Homo sapiens: one gene and its partners. The protein of the gene in region 3 purifies or fractionates together with the protein of the main gene of each other region. This does not show direct contact. Each region holds a gene or a part of one and is shown on either strand. Other genes may lie near its edges.

What was found.
Region 1: the proteins of DUSP10 (region 3) and ECI1 purify together in Homo sapiens (affinity purification with mass spectrometry, with the first as the bait; one large-scale study listed by BioGRID). This does not show direct contact.
Region 2: the proteins of DUSP10 (region 3) and MAPK10 purify together in Homo sapiens (affinity purification with western blotting, with the first as the bait; one study listed by BioGRID). This does not show direct contact.
Region 4: the proteins of DUSP10 (region 3) and FBN2 purify together in Homo sapiens (affinity purification with mass spectrometry, with the first as the bait; one large-scale study listed by BioGRID). This does not show direct contact.
Region 5: the proteins of DUSP10 (region 3) and SKIC3 purify together in Homo sapiens (affinity purification with mass spectrometry, with the first as the bait; one large-scale study listed by BioGRID). This does not show direct contact.
Region 6: the proteins of DUSP10 (region 3) and C5orf22 purify together in Homo sapiens (affinity purification with mass spectrometry, with the first as the bait; one large-scale study listed by BioGRID). This does not show direct contact.
Region 7: the proteins of DUSP10 (region 3) and SAMHD1 purify together in Homo sapiens (affinity purification with mass spectrometry, with the first as the bait; one large-scale study listed by BioGRID). This does not show direct contact.

The regions. Positions count from the first base shown.
Region 1 is NC_000016.10:2,245,088-2,248,587, forward strand, and holds part of ECI1 (enoyl-CoA delta isomerase 1, mitochondrial isoform 1 precursor), read right to left. Parts: intron 1,900-3,500; coding exon 1,772-1,899; intron 1-1,771. UniProt on the Homo sapiens protein: Key enzyme of fatty acid beta-oxidation. Able to isomerize both 3-cis (3Z) and 3-trans (3E) double bonds into the 2-trans (2E) form in a range of enoyl-CoA species, with a preference for (3Z)-enoyl-CoAs over (3E)-enoyl-CoAs.
Region 2 is NC_000004.12:86,357,254-86,361,222, forward strand, and holds the start of MAPK10 (mitogen-activated protein kinase 10), read right to left. Parts: upstream 2,801-3,969; 5' UTR 2,405-2,800; intron 1-2,404. UniProt on the Homo sapiens protein: Serine/threonine-protein kinase involved in various processes such as neuronal proliferation, differentiation, migration and programmed cell death.
Region 3 is NC_000001.11:221,700,924-221,704,089, forward strand, and holds the end of DUSP10 (dual specificity protein phosphatase 10), read right to left. Parts: intron 1,755-3,166; coding exon 1,489-1,754; 3' UTR 501-1,488; downstream 1-500. UniProt on the Homo sapiens protein: Protein phosphatase involved in the inactivation of MAP kinases. Has a specificity for the MAPK11/MAPK12/MAPK13/MAPK14 subfamily. It preferably dephosphorylates p38.
Region 4 is NC_000005.10:128,528,246-128,531,745, forward strand, and holds part of FBN2 (fibrillin-2 precursor), read right to left. Parts: intron 2,449-3,500; coding exon 2,350-2,448; intron 1-2,349.
Region 5 is NC_000005.10:95,544,978-95,548,477, forward strand, and holds part of SKIC3 (superkiller complex protein 3), read right to left. Parts: intron 2,175-3,500; 5' UTR 2,174-2,174; coding exon 2,084-2,173; intron 1-2,083. UniProt on the Homo sapiens protein: Component of the SKI complex, a multiprotein complex that assists the RNA-degrading exosome during the mRNA decay and quality-control pathways.
Region 6 is NC_000005.10:31,549,301-31,552,426, forward strand, and holds part of C5orf22 (UPF0489 protein C5orf22), read left to right. Parts: intron 1-1,992; coding exon 1,993-2,132; intron 2,133-3,126.
Region 7 is NC_000020.11:36,889,729-36,892,708, forward strand, and holds the end of SAMHD1 (deoxynucleoside triphosphate triphosphohydrolase SAMHD1), read right to left. Parts: 3' UTR 501-2,980; downstream 1-500.

The DNA of each region.
Region 1 (3,500 bases), on a different chromosome or scaffold from region 3:
CGGGCGCCAGCACAGGAGCCTCAGACTCCCAGTCAGGGCTGCCGGCCAGGGAGGCGGGCTCGGGGAGGAGTGGAGAACCCACCCTGGGGACCCTGCATGGTCACAGCCCCCTGAGCAAATGACAAGGGTACCTTCCCCTCTGCACAACACGGCACGTTTTCCTCCCGAGGGCCAGACCCCCCAAGGCTGTGGGTGAACTTGTTCCTGCAGCTGAACCCAGCTCACCCTGACTCACACAAGCAGAGCTGGGTGGATGTTTACCCCGCCCTGTCTGCAGGAAGGAGGGCGACAGCCACCTAATGTGTGCGAGGAGGAGGCGGCTGGGACAGATGGGATGGCCTCCACATCCTCAGGCGATGTGAAAAAGCCAGGAACGGTGCGGGTGGGCAACGCAGCTCCGCTGTTCCCAAACAGGTGTGAGCTGGTGCCGCACAGAATGGGTAGGCCGGTCCTTTGTTTCTACAAAACGCGTTCTACTTCCGTTACTCAAAACCCAGGCCTGGCGTGGTGGCTCATGCCTGTAATCCCAGAGCTTTGGGAGGCCAAGATTGGAGAACTGCTTGAGGCCAGGAGTTCAAGACCAGCCTGGGCAACATAGCAAGACCCCGCCTGTACAAAAAAGTAAAAATTAAGCAAAAAAATTAACCAGGTGCAATGGCTCGCACCTGTAATCCTAGCACACTGGGGAGCCGAGGTGGGAGGAGTGCTTGAGCCCAGGAGTTCAAGACCAACGTGGGCAATAAAGGCACTGTCTCTCCCAAAAATTTTAAAAATTTTCAAGATTCAAGAATCGCTTGAACCCAGGAGGCGGAGGTTGTAGTAAGCCAAGATCACGTCACTGTACTCCAGCCTGGGCAAGAGAGGGAGATTCTGTCTCAATAAATATATAAGGCTGGACGTGGCCAGCACTTTGGGAGGCCGAGGTGGGCAGATCACTTGAGGTCAGGAGTTCTAGGCCAGGCCCTGTAAAGCCACGCCAGCCTCCGAGGACCCCTCACTCCCCTCACCTCAGCCAATGCCCGCTTCTCCTCAAGGGTCCCATCCTCCTGGGCCTGACACTGCTTACTGCCCCTCGGCGATGTTGGTAATGACACCGTTCCCACAGATGACACGCCTAGCGTTCGCCAGCACTCAGGCAACATTTAGAGTCCCCTGCACAAGAACTCAGACCAAAGAGGTTCACCCTTGAGAACTCGCCCTGAAGACTGGCCCACAGAGGATCAGAGAGCATGGGTATTGTTCGCAGGACTGGCTCAGGGCACCCAAGTGATCCTAGTGGGGAGCACTCCAGGAACCCACCACCAGGTGTGCTTAGGGTCCAAGGTGACCCCATAGATGCATGGCTCTCCCTCACTCGCTGCCCACAGCTCTCCCCAGTGTCCGCCTGGACGACGGCCCGGGCAGGGAAGGCTGTCTCCCAGGAAGGCGGTCTCCCAGGAGGGCTGCCTCTTGGGAAGGCTGTCTCCCGGGAAGGGCGTCTCTTGGGAAAGCTGTCTCCTGGGAAGGCTGTCTCTGAGACTGGTCCACCTTCACCTTTGGGAATGATCTGCTTGAGGCCCATGGCAGTTTGGGTCCCTGCTGGGGCACACCCAGACGGTGCTCCTGGAAGCCTCCCGTGAAGGCGCCTGGAGTCCAGGGTGGTGGGGCTGCCGGCTGGCCTGTGCCACACGTTGGCAGGCTCTGCCTCTTCCATGTGCAACAGGCCTGGGCTCACATCAGAGAACTCAGGCCAAGAACTCGGGCTGGGGTAGGGAGCTGAACTAGCACCTACCGAGGTCAGAATGACACCGCGGAAGCTCTTGTCATTCTCCAGCTTCTCCAGGCTGATGACCAGCTCCGTCAGAAACTCCAGGCTCAGGCTGTTCACTGGGGGGTTCTTGAATTTCATCACAGCGACCCCTAATTTAAAGAATGAGAAGAGAAAGCTCACACCTGGCACTGGAAAAGCAGCCTGACCAGCCTGCACCCTCAACTAAGCCATGATAGCTGTGCATTTTGGGGGTTTTATTTATTAATTTATTTATTTAGAGACAGAGTCTCGCTCTGTCACCCAGGCTGGAGTGCAGTGGCGCGATCTCAGCTCACTGCAAGCTCTGCCTTCCGGGTTCACACCATTCTCCTGCCTCAGCCTCCTGAGTAGCTGGGACTACAGGTGCCCACCACCACGCCCGGATAATTTTTTTCTTTTAAGTAGAGACAGGGTTTCACCGTGTTAGCCAGGATGGGCTCGATCTCTTGACCTCGCGATCTGCCCACGTCGGCCTCCCAAAGTGCTGGGATTACAGGCGTGAGCCCCCGCGCCTGGTCCTATTTTTATTTACTTTTTTGAGACGGAGTTTTGCTCTTGTTGCCCAGGTTCAAGTGCAATGGAGCGATCTTGGCTCACCGCAACCTCTGCCTCTTGGGTTCAAGCGATTCGACTGCCTCAGCCTCCCGAGTAGCTAGGATTACAGGTGCGTGCCGCTACATCCAGCTAATTTTGTATTTTTAGTAGGGACGGGGTTTTCTCCATGCTGGTCAGGCTGGTCTTGAACTCCCAACCTCAGGTGATCCGCTCGCCTCGGCCTCCCAAAGTGCCAGGATTACAGGCGTAAGCCACAGCGCCCGGCCTGGGGGTTATTTTTTTATTATTATTATTTTTGAGACAGGGTCTCACTCTATCACCTAGGAGTGCAGGGGTGTGATCTCTGGTTACTGCAGCTTTGACCTCCTGGGCTCCAGCGATCCTCCCAACTCAGCCTGCTGAGTAGCTGGGATTATAGGCAAGCGCCACCACACCCAGTTAATCTTTTTTATTTTTTAGTACAGACGAGGTCTTATTTTGTTGCCCAGGCTGGTCTTGAACTCCTGAGCTTAAGTGGTCCTTCTGCCTCAGGCTCCCAAAGTGCTAGATTACAGGAGTGAGCCCTTGGTTTTTTACATTGAAGTAAGATCGATATAACATAAATTAACAATTTTATTTATTCTATATAAACTGCATGCTTTTTAAATCAACCATTCTCTCTTTCTCTCTCTATCATTTTTTTCTGAGACAGAGTCTCGCTCGTCGCCCAGGCTGGAGTGCAGTGGCGCGATCTCAGCTCACTACAACGTCCACCTCCCGGGTTCAAGCGATTCTCCTGCCTCAGCCTCCTGAGTAGCTGGGACTACAGGTATGCGCCACTATGCCCAGCTAATTTTTGTATTTTTAGTAGAGATGGGGTTTCACCATGTTGGTTGGCCAGGATGGTCTCGATCTCTTGACTTCGTGAACACCTCGCCTCGGCCTCCCAAAGTGCTGGGATTACAGGTGTGAGCCACCATGCCCGGCCAAATTAACCATTTTCTATCTTTATTTTTTTTTTGAGACAAGAGCCTCGCTCTGTTGCCCAGGCTGGAGTGCAGCAGCGCTATCTCGGCTCACTGCAACCTCTGCCTCCTGGGTTCAAGCCATTCTTCTGCCTCAGCCTCCTGAGAAGCTGGGATTACAGGACACACCACCATGCCTGGCTAATTTTTGC
Region 2 (3,969 bases), on a different chromosome or scaffold from region 3:
AAGGGAGAACATCTATCCCCATATTTAACAAACAAGTAAATACCCAATTTGTCTTTAGCTTTTAGTATCAGTATAAAAAGAATTTATAACTAGGCTTACATCCAAAGAAACAGATTCATTTACATGAAACCACAATAAAACCTTAAAAATATATTTATGCCTTTAAACATGGGAGGTTTTTCTAGATTACTTAGGTTGGGCAAATTTGTTTTGCTTATGATGTTCCTGTAGGATATCCTAACAAGGAAAATCTTATTAATTTTCCTATAAATTTAAAATATCTACATTTTATAGCATTGACAATAAATTATCAGTTCATTCTAACCTTAGAATATATAGACCATGTACTATGAAACCATTAAATACTAATAGCTGCAGACATACCAGACAATGACAGCAAAAACACACTCAGCCCCTCTGGGATCTGTTCATAAACATCCCCTTCCAGCATGGCAAACACACTCCTCTCAACAGCAGATGCTGTTCTGGGGCTAGCAGGCAGGAAGCTGGAGGCAGCTGATTTTCCCACTCTACATATAATTTCTTACTGCCTCACTATCCAGAATCGTTTTACTGAAACTGTGAGGATTTTTTAAGAACAGGAGCCCCTCAAATTAAAGACACTTTGCAACAGCAGAGGAATGACAGGCAAATGAGGAAGCATGAAGACTCTCTAATATTTAAGGTCACACCACCTTTGTCATCTGATTTTCTAGTCCCATTGTAGGGGAGAGAAAACCCAGTTTGCTCCACATAAGAAAATAAGCTAATCCAATACTTTATGTCAATTTTAAGAGTGTGATCAAGGTAGAGAAGGAAATACATACCAGAGGCAGCCAAACCGCTACATCCAAAGCATCCAGCCCCTAAAATCTAATGGTTCTGAAGTGGAGTCAGAAGCTTGTGATATACTTATATATTTATTTGTTATATATTTGTAACATATATGCTCACCTAAAGTAGAAAATTCACAGAAGCTTCTCTGAGAGAAATGGTCCTTACTGCAACTATTTTAAATATGTTGATAAGCATTCTGTGTTATCTTCCAGGGTCCGACAACTAGCCGATGAGGGATAGAAGGAGATATTGGATGTTGTGCTGGCAATGCCTGGTGCACTTACACTCGTTTTCCTTCCACCTGAACTGTAGTCTATCCCATATGACTTAGCCTGCTTCCTTGCAGTTTGTTCATAAAAGTTATCATCAACATGGCCAGAAGCAGGCAGGGCTGCTGTACAGACACTGTCAGGCTCTGCACCAAAGGCAGCCCATGTAAACAACCTTGTGATTGCTTCAGAGCCTACTGCTGTGGCATAAGCCATTCTTTTTCTGTGGCTAAATTGCAGTACCCTGGGAAGTTATCTGTTTAAGGGGGTAAAAGCAGAGACTAGGTCTCTAGATTTAAATGTTTGGGGAGGGTGAGAAAAATATATGGATAGATAGTTTTCTTGTAATATCTATAGCCTGATTTACTTACAGATTTTCCAGTAAATTACATTTATTTTGTTGAAGGCACAAATACATAGATTCTAACAAATATACTGCCATACTTATTTCTGATTTTTTTTTCAAAAGAGCTCTGACATTTGCAGGGGACACAGTATCCCAGCACAGAATACCTGGGAATCTTGCCATGAAAAAAAGAAAGCTGACTGCTGTGACTAGGAGATCACTTTCTTAAAGGGACCCCTTACCTATTTGACTGCAGTGCCAATGTTTCCTCTTATCTCTAACCTGACCCCTGTTCTGTGTTCCTCTCCCCGGCTCAGATTTAGCCTAGAGTTGCTCTGCAAGAGTAACGCCAATAGTTTTATATCTAATATATATATAAATACTGTTCCTTAGTAAAATACATCTTAAAATATTTAAATTATACTTCTCACAAAAGTAAACATAAATACATACTAAAAGACATTATTTTTAATGTTTTATGGAACCCATCACATTTTTCAGATATGGAACTAAGGTCAGCACTTCTAACAAGCACAGCTGTTTGGTGTTTTTTTTTTCCTCTCTCTCTCTCTCTCTCTCTCTCTGTGTGTGTGTGTGTGTGTGTGTGTGTGTGTGTGTGTGTGTGTTTCTCTCTCTCTCCCTTCCCTTCTGTAGCCCTGCATTGGTCTAAAAACCCCTGGTCACAATAAGAATGCTCCCTCCCTCCCTCTGCTACCCCTCACTCCAAATGGAAAGGTTTCAACACGCCCAAGTCTGGAAAGAGATGTTCTGCACAGAGGGAAAAACTGGTAGCTTCTTGCTTCAAAGCTAGTTCACTTGATTAACCTGCTTTCCACCCCACCTCTCTCGTCTCTTCCATACTCCCTCTCCCGCCCCACCAGGAGCAATCAATAGACATCACCCCACCCTCCAAAAACAGGTTAGAACCCAGAACGAGCAAAGAGCCACCTACCATTCCGTGCCTGAGAACTACGATCCTGATCCGGCAGTGTTTGCCCCAGAAATCCTCCCTACTTGTTTTTCATTAACCACATTCCAGACTAACATGGAAGAGATTCTTTGGAGATATGGAGATTGTTTAAAATTAACGATGGACAGGTGATTTCCAAGAAAACCCAATCTTAAACTCACTCAAGCCCCTAGGAATTGAGGGGTGAGGACAAAAAAGGAAATTTGTAAAAATGAAAAAAGAAAAGAAAAAGGTAAGCATATAGCAAGCACCACCCACCCCCATAAAAATAAAAAGTGAAGGGGAGGTTAAAGAAAATAGAAGAAGAGTGGCTTGCTGAATCACCCTCTTTCACTGCCTGGAAACCATTGTGCAGCGTGATGCTGCCTGTACCATTGTGGAACCTACCAGAGGAGACGGACAGAGGGCTTGGGGAATGGGGTTGCTATGGCAACCGAAAGGAGCACACATGACGTCAAAGCCCAGAGAGGTCTAGGGAGGGGGATGAGGGGGAAACAGAAAGAGGAAGCGTCTATGTGCAGCTACAGCTACTGTGTTTTCCGGTGAAATGAGGACCAGGCAAATGTAAAGGAATAAGGTTCGTCGGCAGCCAACATCAGCAACTACGACATCAAGGCAGCCAGCCTGCACAACCTGAAGAAAAGATCCATTCGATGCAGTTCTGGCCCTTTGCACAGCAGCACGGAGGAGCAAATACCAGCAGAGCAAAACACCACTGGAAATGCAACCTCTGCTTTTCAACTATCTCTTGTAGTATCTCTAAACGTCAAACAAGTAAGAGATGGTAATAACCTCAGAGGAGAAGCAGGCATTTGAGTGTCGCCTGAACCCCGAGGTCATCTGCACAGCACTATTCCTCTTCTCTGTTTCCTTGTTTTTGTAAAAATCCTGAATAAATATCCACTAAACCAAATTCAACAGACTAATACTTAGGTTGCAATCTGAGTGTACAAAGAAAATACTGATTAATTTGAGTTAACACATCAGAATTCTTTTTTTTTTAATTGCAGATAATTTTCTAGAGAACTGATGAAAATTGTACTGTTACTATTTGGGGCAAATATCGCAATTTTATTTCAGTAATTTGCTCTGCCTTTAACTGTTATAGGGTATTTTTAAAGTCTCCAAACAGTTTTACTATCCATAAATAATAGTTTCTTAGAATGACAACAGTTGACTACTTGCACTATAAAAAAAAATTAGGTTTACCAAATTTGTTTTACCTTTTTTATGTAAGAAAAATTTTCAATACAAATTTCGCTTAAACCAACTCCAGCCTTTGGACTTCTCAAATTACGTAATCTAATTCAATTCCTTTTTTGCTTACACTCTTTTGAGGTGGGTTTCTGTTTATTGCTACCAAGTAGTGCTGAGTTGTAAATGATTCCACATTATGTTTTAGAACTAGCATACTTATATGAATATGAAGCTTCTTCCATATGTTACCAGAAAGATACAACATGCAAGAGATGCAAACTCAGCAGTACTGTAGACACTGAAACACATCATAAAGCTGTAAGAAACGCATACGTTTTTGTTGTCTTTGT
Region 3 (3,166 bases):
GCTGCAACGCATTACATGGTTAATGTCACCAAAGATGCCAAGTGAGCAAGTGACAATGGGGTGGGGGGGTGGGGGGAGGAACATCAAGATCCCTAAATGGAAGATTGTCCTAAGTATTTATCAAATAGCCACTAGGGAGATCACTGAATTCTCACCAATCAATCTGGCAGGGATTTGGTCACCAAGGCGCAAAGGCAGATGGGATCCCCTTAATGCAAGCCTTCCCCGATGCAAAAGGAATGATATTTGCAGGAGAGGATGACAGCATTGTGAGAATATAAGGGACAGTGACTGGGCAGATCAATACTGGAGCTCTTCCACTTCCTTGCTAACTCTGTTTCACAGTGAGAAAACTGGATATGTTCCCTTCCTCATCTCTCTTTCCCTATATAAAAATCTGTTTTATTTCAACTTTGTTGTATATGCAAGTTACCAGAGCTTAAGAAAGGCTTGAACCTGAGTTAAGGTAAAAGAGAGGGGAAAAAAAGACACATCCTAAACCAGTTTCATTTATATAATGAAAATAAATTTTTACACAATCAACAGAAACACACCAAGATTTTTTTTTTTTTTGCGAAAAATATTTTTAAATAAATTTTTTTTTCTTACATTCTGATATACATATGTAACAAGGTTTATGGCACTGTAACCAGAATCAAATCAGAAAAAAAAAAAAAAAAGGAAAAAGGTGGGAAGGAAAGTATTTGATATATTGTTGAATTCCTTTCTATCTCCAAGCTGGCAAATTTGCACTATTTGTCTATCATTCAGCTGCCAGCTCTAACTTGTTTGCACACTTAAAACATCATATTATTGCACAAGAAGCCAGTGAAGGCATATAATGGTCAGTTCCTCACTATTTCAAAAAAAATCTCTTAAACCCAGAGAAGGAAAAAAAAAAAAAATCCAGAGCATGAAACACACAAAATCAAAGGTATCCTTTTTCTCCTTAAAGAATGCCTGAAGGATTCTTAGACCACTTAAGCTGCCCTGATCTTCTCTTTGCACCAGTGAGCACAACAGGGCTTGGTTTGGTTGGGTTTTTGTTTTCTGTGTGGACAGCCCAGGTTGATCCCAGGCCTTGGTGATTCAATGTCTTTTCTATTTACTTTTGGTTCTTTTTAATTGGTTTAAAGTGTGTAGTATCTTCGGTCTATGAACCTGCACAGACTATTTAGTCATAAACTCTACAAATAGCTTAAAAGGAAAAGGGGGAGAAACAAGTTGTATTATATTTTTATTGTTGGCTTAAAAAAATTACTTCTTTAACCTCCTTAATTTGTCAGTTTGTGGGAGGTGAATCTCAATGGCATCAAAAGTTATAGTCTTCTTACACTTGTTAAAAATAAAGTGTTTAAACAAGTTTGTTTCCATTCACAAACTTACTCCCAACTACAAAAAAAAAAAGAAAGAAAAAAAACCAGAATCCATCCTCCTTCCTCATTGTCTCCTAATGGAGAGCAGCAATCCTTTCCATCCAGACCATTGTCACACAACCGTCTCCACGCCCATCAGCTTTGGTGTAAGGATTCTCGGTGTCACACCGTTGTTTAGGTCTTCCTCGAACTCTAGCAACTGCCCCATGAAGTTAAGGTTTGGGGAGATAATTGGTCGTTTGCCTTTGACAAATTTATAAGCATCAGTCATGGTCATCCGAGTGTGCTTCATCAAGTAAGCGATGACGATGGTGGCGGAGCGGGACACCCCAGCCTGGCAGTGGATGAGAAGCCCCTTCCCACACTGGTGAGCTTCCTCTGAAAAAAGGGAGAAAGACAAGAGATGAAGGGAAGATGGAAGAGAGAGGCACGGAGAGAGAAACTTTCATCTCAACTTTGCAATGCCTTATTTTGTATAGAAATAATGAATTAAAACAGTTTTAAAGCCAAGTATAATCCACTAGTTCATTACGTATACTTATGTCACAACTTCCAGAACTGGCTAAAGTTGATATCAGCACGAACAAGAAGCTATACATCTACATTTAAAGAGAAGATTAAATGAAAGAATTGCTCATAGGAACAGTTTGCTGCACAGGTGACAGCAGTGGCCGGAAGCCAGACCTATAACACAGTTAACTTTCACGTTGAACAAGCTACTGATCAAGTCGACTCTAACAGTCACTGAACCTTCTCTCAAATGTCTTGTTCTCTTTTTTTCTGGAATTACACTACTGAAAGAAAAAAAAAGAATGAAGGAAAAGGAGAGAGGAAGGGGAAAAATTATACACACACATGAAAATATACACTCACACATATATATGTATATGTATGTGTGTGTATGTGTGTGTGTGTGTGTGTATATATATATATATGCAGTTCCTCTTTGGATTAAGGATGTTAATTCCAATTTTCGGTTGTGTGACTTAACAAACCTAGTGCTAGTAACAACTCTCTCACTTGTAATAGAGAAAAAACACTTTCTTTATTCTATAGAATTGCTCTGTACAGGAACGGGCATTAAATGGATAAGAGTTTTAGTCTTACTAAACCCTGATTAAGGTTAAAGGAATAAAGCTTAACTAGGAAGATACTATGTTCAGCTTCTCCCCAGAAAATCCAGTTGTTGCAAAGTTAACTAAAGGCTAGTAGTATACAGGCCGAGGGTGTCACCTCTCAAGCATTCAATCCCGTTTGCTTCCATGTATGACATTCCAGTGTGGCAATAATGCAGAAGATGGAGGAATCCCAGCAATGGCTCAAAATCCAGAGCAATTGAAAGAGGAAGACTTGCTAAGTTTTCAAATATATTAAAAGCTCAGGACAATAGCATGTGGGCACTACCTGAACAGATTCTTAATGACATTTCTAGACTCTAACACATCCCTAAGAAAGCTTCCTTGAAGGAACACCAATTAGATAAACAGGTAGGGAAGGAGAAGGGGTAGAGAGAGTAGTGATTTCACCTAAACTACATCTACTGGCTACCCACCAGTGGACCAAGGAAAAAAAACCTGATGTAAATTTTCATCTTAAAAATTTACAGATGAAGTTTACTTCTCATAGTCAACAGTATTTCAAGAAAAGTAAGCATCTCTCTTTTTCAACTTTTTCCCTTCAGCACACGGTATTTAGCTCCAAGTCAAGACCAGAAAGCATGGTGGTGAGAGAATGAGCTTCTGAGTGCCTGGCTGGACCACCGGTTCCACTACACACACTTGATTCAGGAA
Region 4 (3,500 bases), on a different chromosome or scaffold from region 3:
AGGAGGCACTTTTGTCTCCATTCAGAATGCAGGAGGTGAGTGCCCACCATTCCAGCTCAGTGCAGTACTGTCATAATGGACTTGAAAGCTATCCTCACAGAGCTTGAATTCCGATGGGGAGCTACGGAAAACACAGGTAAACAAATACCACTAAGTAATTATAGACTGTGATAAACTGTTTGAAGTAAACTGTTGTGAAGGAGACTAGTCTGGAGCCAAGAAGGAGCTTAGATACTGGCACTAGACAAGACCACTCTGAGGTGACATTTACACTGAATAAGCCAGATATTAAAAGTACCACGGAGAAACTTCAGAGAGAGAAGAACCAGCAAATCAAAAGACCTTAGGATGGTAAAAGGTTTCTTCTGAAGAATGGAGAGATTCCTGTGGTTAAAAAGAGGCAGACAGGGAAGAGACCTTGGAAACCCAGGCAGAGACCAGCCAGCTAACACAGGGCCTCCTCGGCCACCGAAGGGTTTTCATTATATCCCAAATGCAACAGGGAGTCATTGAAAGGATTTAAATGAGAAAGTGAAGTGATGTAATCTATATTTTAAAAAGATTACTCTAGCTGCTCTGCAGAGAACGGATTTGAAGAGGGCGAGAGTCTGGGAGAAGGATGAGGATAGCTTACACCACATGGTAGCAGTGGAGATGGAAAGGAAAAGATAAATCTGAGATAATTATTTTCCAGTAAAGCCTACAGGACTTGTTTAAAGAGCCGACATAGAGAAAGAGAAGCAGCAGTTACTTAAGCACTGGGTGGATGGCAGAGCCATTTGCCAAGGCAGGAGGAACTGTGTGGTTCAAGTAGCCTGTGGTCAGCAATAAATTCAGTTTCCTTTTAGACATGCTACTAAGTTTCAATTGCTTGCTATTTCTTGAGTGGAGATGTCAAATGGGAAAGGGAATATATGAGTGTGGAGGTCAGTGGTGGGATCTCCAGTGTAGATAAATATTATGAGTTATCAACAGATTGGTAGTCATTGAAAACATGAGTTCACCCAGGGAGGGCAGAACTCAGGAATACCAAACCTTGAATGAAAGACTGATGAAGACATAGAAAAGAGACTAAAAAGGAATGATCAAGAAAAGGAGCACTGAAGGCCACTGGCATTTTAAAAGTCAAGGGTGTTTCAAAGAAAATGAAAAACAACATTTCAAGAAGATAATGATTAATAGTGCCAAAAGCTTTAGCAAGGTCAAACAGGATGATGATTGGGAGGGTTAGAAAAGTTCCTGATGAAATGGAAGGATTGCCCAAGGCCAAATGAATGCACAGATTCCCTGCTAAATTATATACCACAAGCAAAGAGTGGACCAGAGAATGTCCCAGCTCCCAGGTAGAGGAATTAAGAAACTGAATCTTAAAATTCCTCCAGCATTGTGTTTTTTGCCAAAGGCAAATATGAGAAAACTAGGAACAGGATAATGAACATACTGGCAACAGTATCTTGTAGGTAATCAGGCAAGAAAGAGAGGTTCAGGTTAAGTTGGGGATGAAATGTTCTGGTTAAAGTGGTCAAGAAATCTTGATGAATTTGAATGGTAGGTTTTAAAAGCTGAGGAAATGGCAGATTCAAAGGAAGTGAAATTAAGAGAGTTTTCATCAGGAGTTTCATCAGAAGACAATGGCATTTGATGTATGAATCCTGAATCTTATTCCTGAGTCAGACATACTATATTACCTTCTTTTAGGGAAAATTTGAAGAAAGATGTATTAAAAATATAATGACTTCACACTAGTTTGAGGCAAGACTTAAGAAAGCATTTATTTAATTATTGAGCAATTAAATAAACAATCTTGCTTCTGCCTTGTTATAATGTTATCTTAAATACTAGCCTCAAAGATTAATCTTCGACCTTAAGGACCCAACAATTTCTAATTGGGTCATGAATCACACAATCATAGTCCACAGTTATAATTATCTTATGAAGTTGTTGGCAGTTAATACATGTGAAGCAAAATAGGTCCATTATGTGTAAAGTATGTGGTCAGTACTCAATAAACACATGCTGCCTTTGGAGTTCTCCTCTCCTTCCCCCTTAGATAACCCACAAAACACATGTTAAGCAAAGGCAACAAATACAGTCTAGTGTTTGAGACTATACACTTAGGCATCAGAATACCTGGATTCAAGTCTGTGTTTCCTTGGGCCAGTTAATTAAATTATGTGTGCTTTACTTTGCTATTCTGTAAAATGGGGTATTAACAGTATCTCATAATGTTGATGTAAGGATTAACTAAAGTAATAACAGTTAAAACTCCCTGGCACATAGAAGGACCTTTAGCATTTGCTCCAAAGCTTAAGAAAAATGCAGTGAAAAGGCCACAAGTAAGAAACATACTTGATTTTGATCCACAGGTTGATGATATTTGCCCACTGGAACAAGTACACATGTTAGGACGGGAACAAAATCCATCTCCACAACTATTTCTACAAATCGCTGTAGAAAGCACAATAGGAAAATGAATGAATAACTATATAATAAACCATAGTTTACAAAACAAGAAAGCTGTATTTAAAAATAAAAAGCCTGAAAAACTAAGATAAAATATATGATATAAATGTCTAACTTCAGATATGCAATAAAATTACCCATTGCAGACTTGGGAATAAGTCTCACAGGTATCCTTATGAAAACGTGTAAACAAATGAAGCTGTTTCAAATTGCATAATCCTTTAAGGAATCTCCACACTGTTTTCCATAGTGGCTGTAAAAGTAGAACTACCATTTGATCCAGCAATACCACTACTGGGTATCTACCCAGAGGAAAGGAAGTCATTATTCGAAAAAGATACTTGTACATGCATGTTAATAGCAGCACAATTCACAACTGAAAAATCGTGGAACCAACCCAAATGCCCTTCAATCAACAAGTGGATAAAGAAACTGTTATATATATATGGTGATATATATATATAACTGTGATACATATAATATATATATCACCATATATATAATGGAATACTATGCGGCCATAAAAATGAATGAATTAACAGCATTTGTAGTGACCTGGATGTGACTGGAGACTTATTATTCTAAGTGATGTAATTCAGGAATGGAAAAGCAAACACTGTATGTTCTCACTGATATGTGGGAGCTAAGCTATGAGGACACAAAGGCATAAGAATGATATAATGGACTTTGGGGACTTGGAGGAAAGAGTGGGAGGAGGTGAGGGATAAAGGACTACAAATATGGTGCAGTGGACACTGCTCAGGTGATGGATGCACCAAAATCTCACAAATCACCACTAAAGGACATATTCGTGCAACTAAATACTACCTGTACCCCAATAACTTATGGAAAAATAGAAACAAAAATAAAGTCATATGTAAGTAAACGTTACAGAATGAAAACATGGTAGAATAAAATAAAGCACAGGCTTTTTAAGTTTAAAATACATATATATGTGTGCGTGTGTGTGTATATATATGTATGTATATATAAGTGTATATATATGTATGTGTGTATATATATATATATATATACAC
Region 5 (3,500 bases), on a different chromosome or scaffold from region 3:
CATTTAGTCTCAACCAATATTCTGGGTTACTACACATTAGTAATCAGGCATTTATAACTGATTAGCTATCCATTTGCATTTTCTAATTGGGTCTCTCTAGTATAAATTATTAACTATTTGGTGGAATTAATATCTGAATTTTGCAGAAAGTCTACAGGAAGAAGACAGCTATGGTGGTGCTGTATATAACTGAAACGTGCATCAATTAGATAAACCTAGTGCTGAAGGAAACAGTCCTTCTTCCCTTCTTGTATTCCATCCACAACCTGTCCCCACTTGGAACACACTGCCCACCTTCTTCTATATCAAGATTAATACTATCACGTCCTTGCATCCCTGCTGGGCTCCATCAGTCACCACCAGAAACCTAAACCTCACAAGGGTATCCTTTACCTGTTTACTCCTTAGACTCATCCTCATATTGCCATGTATACTGCCCAGTCTTGCCCAATTCCCTCCCTACCACTCTCCTAAATTCTTCATTGTGCCCTCTGGAACTCCCAATCTGGGTCAGCCAAGTTCCTTCCATATTTTTAACCTTTCTTTTAACCACACCAAGTTCTGCCTCAATGAAAACATGGCTAATTCCCCTATACATCCTACAGATTGCAGATGACTTCTTTTACAGCTCACATGCCACAGGCCTAGAAGGTGAGAAACTGCTTCTTGCTCACACTGTCTGTCACCTACAGTCCTCTACTGCTCCTTCCTCCTTCAGCAACCCCACTACCTTTGAAGCTCAGGCCATCCAACTATACTACTAAAAATAGCCTTCTTGTTGCTACAGTCTACCACCTTCCTAATTCCCCTTTCCTTCAGTGAAAATTCTGTATCCTTCTTTTCCACCTCAGTGCCTGTATTCATGTTGATATCCCGTTGAACACTCTGGCCTCTCAGTTATGTGACCACCACACTACTCACCCATCCAAAATCTGAATTTCCAGCACAGTACTATTCTGCTCCTCTCTAACCGTCCCAGTTCAATTACTGTAGTGGTCCCATGGTAACAAATCTTTAACCTTTGGTTTCTCTAATTTTTTCTATCCTAAACGCTTTTTCCATTGCCTATCAGCCCACCTCTCATTTCTCATTCCTCTTTACCCAGCTTAGACTCCAGGGCTCACCACTGTCATCACTCCCTTGTCATGTCTTTCCTTTGCATGTCTTTCCTTTCTTCTTTCTCTCCATCCATACTTGAACCCCATCATGCCCATCTCCAAACCTGAGAAACTGAATACAAAGAGAAAAACTACAGCGGAGTTCACTAATTTCACTTTAATAGCTTGAAACTTCAAATGGGCAATCACTAGGGCCTGCTAATCTTTCCAATCCTTACTAGCAAGTTTCTTTTCCCACCATGAGAAAAAAAAAAAACAAAAAAAAAAACAAAGAAAGAAACTATTTCATACCTTCTGCTATCTCAAACCTCCTAACCAATAACCAAGTCTTCTCCCAGTCTCATCTTATACTTTGCCAAGAAAATAGAAGCCATTAGAGAAGAAAGCTTTTCCCAACACCAAATCTATAAGCCCAACACTGTATGGATGGGCACCTATCTTCTCTCCTGCTAAGATGGAAGAAGGATTAAAGGGCTCCCTCAAGCTCTGGATCCCAGTGTGTCTCTCACCTACTGATGACTTCACTCCTACCACTACCCTCTGTCTCTCCCCCGAGTCCAATTTCTCCCTCTGAATGGAATCATACCCATCAGCATAAAAATAAGCTTTATAATCTTGGTCCTCTCATCCACAAACCAAATAGAAATAGAACACTAACATGCCATTAAACAATGAAAACTTTAAGATACAGTAGCATTCCACGATACAACCATCAAAAGATATTTATGGGATATTCAGGTTTTAAGAACTTGGTTTTGTTAAGTTACCAATACAGAGAAAGTTAAGTTTGGCAGAGGTAGTTTATCCTGCTAACTAGAGGTTAAAAGTCCAACCATTCTAATGGTTCTACTAAATGGCCTTACCACTTTTGCTGTTTGGACAGGAAATAATTCACATATTACAAATCAACAATGTTTATAAATGGGTAACATACTTTCATTGTGGAAGAAAAAAATACTGGTTACCTTACAGTGTTTCAAAGCTTCTTTGTATTCTTTGTTTCTGATTGCATCTCTAGCACTTTTTAGAGCAGTCTTCACTTCCTTGCTGGACATTCTGTCAAGGCAGAAAGCCTGAGTAAATCTACAGTAATACCTACCCAATCGTAAATGTTCCAACAAACTTAGCCATCTGAAAAGGGACCCTGGAAAAGGAAAAGACTCCTTCTCTCTGGAACAGTCTTCCCTCTAGAATATACACAGTTTATTCCTTAACCTCTTCAGATCTGTACTCAAATGTCACTTCCTCAATGAAACCTTCCTTTGACATGCTATTTAACATTTTAATCTTGCCATCCCCCTACTCTCAACAACCCATTATTTCCGGAACCCCTTCCATTGCTTTATTTTTCTTGAAAGCATTTGTCACATTTAATATACTATATATTCTACTTATTTATCCTGTTTATTTTCTGGGTCCCAACCCCACAAGAAGCTAAGTTCCATGCAGGCAAGAATTTTTTTTTTCACTGCCGCATCCCCAGGACCTAGTATCTTAAATTATAGATGATCAATTAATAAGTGTTGAAATTGAGTTATATTTTATTTACATTCATTCTCTATATATTTTGGCTAAAATACAAATGATCTTGTTGATCAGGACTCAAAACACATACCAATCTCAATCCAACTCTCCCACTCTATACAAAGCTAGATCCAGTAGAATAAGCCCAAGTCACAGATAAAACACTAACACAAATAATTTCAGTGACTGTGATATGAAAGTTTAAGAAAGCATTGTTTTAATGCTAGTTTCTGTGAAACATAAATCAAGATATTAACTTTCTTCACAATAAGGATTACTGTAGGTTTATTACCTGTACTTTTTCTAAAGAAAAACAATGTTTAAACTTGAATGGAAGCAATGGATAATGCAAAAGGGTTGTATACTAATTTCAGCCATAAAAAGATATTTTAATTAGTAGAGAAAGTATTTCTTCATTTAGTCTTAAGATATATTAATTTTAAATAAATTAGCATATTTTAAGATTACACAACTTATTCTGGCTTACCTATAAACAAGTCTAATTCAATCATAATTCAATGTTGAAAAAAAGAAATATTTGTATTTTCTGTCAGCTCCTCTAATCTCATAGAAAGGTAAAACAAAGCTGGGGTAAATATTAAGTATTTATAGGCTTCAGATGCTCAAGGGAGTAAAATGTACCAAAAAGATGAATCACTGACATGGTACACTGACAGTCCTTTATATCCAAAGAAGAAGCTAACACAGAAGTATGAGACCAAAGAAGTTTGAGAAGTTAGATACATATTTTTTAATCTTTTTGACTTAAAAAATGTTAGGATTCAAAATAATAGAAAAATTAAGATACCATAAAATCAATTTATCTACAGCTAGAACCAGATTCCCTAAATAGGCAGA
Region 6 (3,126 bases), on a different chromosome or scaffold from region 3:
CACAGTCACCTCCCACCAGGTTTCTCCCATGACACATGGAAATTGTGGGAGTTACAATTCAAGGTGAGATTTGGGTGGAGATACAGCCAAACCATATAATGAGCAAAGCAAAAGAATATTTTGGTGAAACCTAAGCAAATCCAAGACTTAAACTTTTTTGTTTAACTTTTTTTTTTTTCCCCTGGGAGCATATATTCAAATTGCCCTGAATAAACACTTCCAAGACTTACACTTTTTAAAAATGGTAATTAAGAAGATCGTTATAAGATACTTAAGGTTTGAAAATGTTTTGAGGCCAGGAGCAGTGGCTCATACCTGTAATCCCAGCACTTTGGGAGGCCAAGGCAGGTAAATCGCTTGAGCCCAGGAATTTGAGACCAGCCTGGGCAACATGGCAAAACCCCATCTCTACAAAAAATACAAAAATTAGCCAGGTGTGGTGGTGCACACCTGTAGTCCCAGCTACTTGAGAGGCTGAGGCAGGAGGATTGCTTGAGCCTGGGTGGTTACAATGAGTTGAGATCCTGCCATTGGACTCCAGCCTGGGCAACAGAGTGAGACTTTGTGTCAAATTTAAAAAGAGAAAGAAAATGCTTTGAATTCATACAATATTATCAAATATGTCTGCAGGCAGGTCTGCTTTAATCATTACATTGCATCTGGGTTTTTTTCGTTGGGTGGGTTTGATGTTTTTTGGGGGGCAGGGAATGGCTAGGGCTCAGTCACAGATTATGTAATCCATTATGATATGCCCTACAGCTGCAGAGATAGAACGCTAAATAGTTTTATCATTTTGGCAAAATGAACATCCAGAATTCATCCTTTTATCACACTGACTGATCATTGCCAGTTAAATTGTTGATGTGTATCCAAAGCCTCCAATAAAATATTTGATTAGTGTGTTTTTTCATACTTTGCACTTGCGTACTCTAGGCAAAACTATGACATAGTTAAGTTCCAGTTTTCAAAACATTAAAGTTAAGGTTGCAGAATGGTAGCATGTGAGCCACTTCTAACTTTCAGGCAAGTTTAGTGTAGTGCTAAGACTAGAACATATTCCATTCAAATTTAAAACACATAGGTAGATAGCAGTAGCTTATGGTTATACATAAAGGATACACAAGAAAACAGTTTGGTTAAATAAGGTAGGATAAATATTTTCTCTTGTATCCTCTCAAAGCTTTGAATGTAGTACTAGGTGCACATATTAATATTTAAAAAGTAAGTAAAATAATGTGTTAAAAATGAGATAAGAATATGTACAATTTTTTTTTTTCTTTTTGAGACGGAGTTTCGCTCTTGTTGCCCAGGCTGGAGTGCAATGGCACGATCTTGGCTCACTGTAACCTCTGCCTCCCGTGTTCAAGTGATTCTCCTGCCTTAGCAGGAGAAGCTGGGATTATAGGCATGTGCCACCACGCCCGGCTAATTTTGTATTTTTAGTAGAGACGGGGTTTCTCCATGTTGGTCAGGCTGGTCTCCAACTCCCGACCTCAGGTGATCCGCCTGTCTCAGCCTCCCAAAGTGCTGGGATTACAGGCATGAGCTACCACGCCTGGCCTCAACTTTTTAGAATCTAGATGAAATGGATAATTTGATAGAAAATGTGAATTACCAAAATTGACCCAAGCCCAATGAAGTAGTTAAAGAATTATTCTAAAAAGAGGCATCTGGCCCAGACAGGCATATAGGCGAGTTCTACCAACACTTCAGAGAGCAGATAACTTTTATGACATAGAAACTGTTAAGGAAAAAATAATCCCAATGCATAAAAATATTAAAAATTAAAAGTTTTTCATATTTAAGGTGTTGGATATCCCAGTTACCCTGATTTGATCTTTATATGCTATTATGAATCACATGTACCCTGAAAATATGCACATCTTTTATGTATCAATAAAAGTAAAGATTTGTCAATAAGGCCATTAATGATTAAAGAAGCTTATAAAAACAACTGTCATACAGTGTAATTTTTAATTGTCTTATTTTCAGGTTCACCAGGCTGGTTTAACCTGCGATTATTCAGAACTTCCTCACCATATCAGCACAGAACAAGAAATAGAGTGTCTTATTCAATCTGTGCATTATTTGCTGAAAAATTTACCAAATCCTACTCTTGTGACAATTGCAAGGTAAGTGTGTTCAGCAGAATAATGGCAAATCAGAGATGTGCACATCCTAATCTCTGGAACCTGTGAATATGTTACATTATATGGCAAAAGGAAATTCGCAGTGTGATTAACTCAAGGATTTTGAGATGAGATTATCCTGGATTTATCAGGTGGGCCCAGTGTAATCACAAGGGTCATTAGAAGAGAAAGGCAGGAGGGTCAGAATCAGAGAGAGTGATTCGAAAATTCTACACTTCGGGCTTTGAAGGTGGAGGCCACAAGCTAAGGAACACAGGCAGCCTTTAGAAGCTAGAAAAGGCCAGGGGACAGATTATCCCTGGGATCTTACAAAAAGAATGCAGCCCTGTCAGCACCTTTATTTTAGGACTTCTGACCTCCAAAACTATATAATAAATTAGTGTTGCTTTAAGCTACTAAGTTTGTGGTGATTTTTTATAGCAGCAGTAGGAAACTAATACAATCTCTGTAGGTAAATAACCTGGTCACTAGAGCGTAAAATGAGTTTATCAGTGGTCTTACAGATTATCTCTTTAGGTTTGAAATACTTGTACTAAGGAGTAGGCCAGATAACTAATTCCAGTTCTTCTATAAAGATTTCTGTGCTGCTCTTCTCACTCTGTCCTCTAGAAGGCTTTATTCACCCTTATCCGGAACCAGGAGACACTGGTTAATCCAGTTGTAACTGGCAGCAGCATTGTAACTGCCCAGTGCAACTCAGGTTGCAGTTGGTAAGTTCTGGAAAGACTCCCAAAATACAGATATCTGCCCCAACCTACTTTGCTCTTTTCTGCTTCCTACTGCCTAGGAAAGTAAATCCAACACCAGCACATCGCCACATTTCATTTTGGACCAAGCCATGGATCCTTTATAATTTTGTAGTTAACAAATCATTTTTAGAAATAGGATCCTTTTATCAGTTGGAAAACCTCGACCCTCATCATTTCTAGCCCTAGCACACACATAATAAAAGATGTTCCATCGCTAAGATAATAAG
Region 7 (2,980 bases), on a different chromosome or scaffold from region 3:
CGCCAGCTACTGAACGAGGAAAACCAACCTCATGAACATTATCATTTTAGAGGTTCTACAACTGATTCATGTTTATTGTAGAAAAACCAGAAGACGTTAAAAAAATTAAAATTGCCTAAAATTCAACCCCCCCCAACTCTTAACATTTTCATGTATATCCTTCCAGACAATGTTCCATGAATGTGTGTGTGTGTGTGTGTGTATACTTACAAAAACAGGATTCTACTCTGTATGTGTGGAAATGATTTTAACTTACAGAATATTGTCAAACCTTAGAAACCTGGGCTTGAGCACTGGAACTAATAAATACTGTAGCAGCGTCGTTCCTCCTCTGGCCTGCTGCAGAATGTTGAGGCCTTTTTGTCTGCCACCAGTGCCAGGTGCTTGTGAGTCTGTTATTTAATTTCACAATGAAGGTATGAAAGGAGTAAATGAGTAATATGCATTTTTGGACAAAGAGGTCGAAACCTTTGTGGAACACAACTTTCAAGATGGAGATATATATTCACGAAGCTTTATTGCAGCTGTTTCCCTTACCCAGTTGAAGTGGCCAGTCATTTTAATTTGCAGTTCTATTTACATTCCCAAGGTAACCACGTTCAGTAACTCTCTAGAGGCTAAGCTGTTAAAATTTCCATTTTTATACAAATAGCAAAGATATTTCTTTCTCTTTCTTTCTTTCTTTCTTTCTTTTCTTTCTCTCTTTCCTTCCTTCCTTCCCTCCTTCCTTCCTTCCTTTCTTTCTTTTTGTTTGAGACAGAGTTTCGCTCTTGACCCCGAGGCTGGAGTGCAGTGGCCTGATCTTGGCTCACTGCAACCTCTGCCTCCCGGATTCAAGCGATTCTCCTGCCTCAGCCTCCCGAGTAGCTGGGATTACAAGCACACACCACCACGCCCGGCTAATTTCACCCGGCTAATTTTTGTATTTTTAGTAGAGACTGGGTTTCGCCATGCTAGCCAGGCTGGTCTCAACTCTTTACCTCAAGTGATCCGCCCACCTTGGCCTCCCAAAGTGCTGGGATTACAGGCATGACCACCTCGCCTGGCCAAGAAAAATGTAACCTTGTAAATAGCACAGCGTTCTCATAATGGAAACAGTTGCAAAGAACATAAAGTACAGCTGCGTTACATGTAACAAAAGATGCAAACAAAATAGATTCAAGTTGTTTTGCAGACAGCACAATGATACAATATTAGGACTACAGAATCTCAGAGTAAACCACAATGATTTAAAGGTAAGATACACAGAAATAAAATGATTTTAACAGAAAAATATGACATTCCTGACCTTAGGTCTGGGCACATGATGTCTGACCCCTATAGAGGCACCTTGGCTAAAATGGGAATGACCTAGTGCCATGGCTGACCTCACTTGTGCGTTGCTGAGCCCATATGTGAACAAATCCCCTTGATACAGCACCATGGTAGGCATGAGAGGAGAAGTGTTTTAACTATTCTCTTATGAATTGTAACCAACCCTTATTATCTACTGATGGATGGACAGGGGGTGGGGTGATCATACAGGATGGCAGACATTCCAAGTACTCTTCACCCCAGTGTGGACGGAACAGAATCTGGCTACACGGTGGCCAGTGATGGACTGCTGGGAAATCTGCTGGCCTGTGGTCTGAGTTCCCCTACTTGCTCAGGCTGCCCCTCACTCCCAGTGTGCCAGGGAGGCTTAGTCCGGGGAGCATCAGAGCAGAAGACATTCGGGGCTCATGGCTCCCATCCCCACTGGCCTGTATCTTCAGCACCCTCTGGCCACCACCAGCTTTGGCTCTAACTGCAGACTTTGTTCTTGGTGAATTGCTATAGAACTGGGAATGAGGTGTGCCCTGGGCACAGGGGCACTGCCCCACCAAGGTGGTGCCCACTCCACTGCTGGGAAAACGAAGTTACCTAGCGGAGCCTGGAGCCCACTGGGTGGTCACTAATTTCAGCACAGGCAGTGCAGTGTTTGTGCTTTTTTTTTTGGAGATGGAGTCTCACTCTGTCACCCAGGCTGGAGTGCAATGGCGTGATCTAGGCTCACTGCAACCTCCGCCTCCCAGGTTCGAGCAATCCTCCTGCCTCAGCCTCCCAAGTAGCTGGGACTACAGGCACACGCCGCCACGCCTGGCTAGTGTTTGCTCTTAAATACACAAAATGCACTGAACCAGCAAAAACAAAGTCCCAGGTCTGAGGAGCTCTGAGGATGATGCCTGTGATGGCCTCTGGCCAGCTCTCCAGGATACTGAGAGAGCAGGTCAGGGGAGGCCTTCTCCAGGCTGGGCAGTGGGAAGGCCCTCTGGACCGGGGGAGTGAGTATTCAGGGGACAAAGGCACTACCCGGGTCTGGAGCCGCCACGGAGCCAGGGCACAGCCTAGTTTGGGGGATTCCTCTGTCACTGGGGTAGGATCTCCCAACAAGAGGCGGCTTTATGTTCCACTCACGAAGAGGCCAGAGCTCTCAGATCTTCCCCAAAACCTAATCAGGCCTCTCACCAGCGTGTTGGAGGCCACTCCTGGCCATCATCTCCAACTCTTTACCCCAACCTGGCACCTTGTAGGGGGCTAGAAGGGTGAGGGGAGGTGTCTTTCACTTATGCTTAGGTCACTCTTAGAGGACTATCCTCAAACTTGAGGTGACAGGGAACTCTTCACGGGGGCAGGATTTGATGTTTTGTTTTTAGCCATGTTTGTCAATGACAATGTCAATTTCTAGTTCCAATTTGTACCCTTGTCTCATTTCTACATTAAAAACAAAAAACAATCATCTGTCATAAAAGTTCAGAGTAAGCTGGGTGTGGTGGCACATGACTTTAGTCCCAGCTACTTGGGGGGCTGAGGCAGGAGGGTCGCTTGAGCCCAGGAAAGTTCGAGTCCAAGCTGGGCAACAGAGCAAAACCTTGTCTCTTAAAAAAGAAAAAAAATAGAGTTCAGAATAGATAAAAGAGTTGTTATTCTAAGAAAATAGACTACTGAAGGAGAAAGGCTT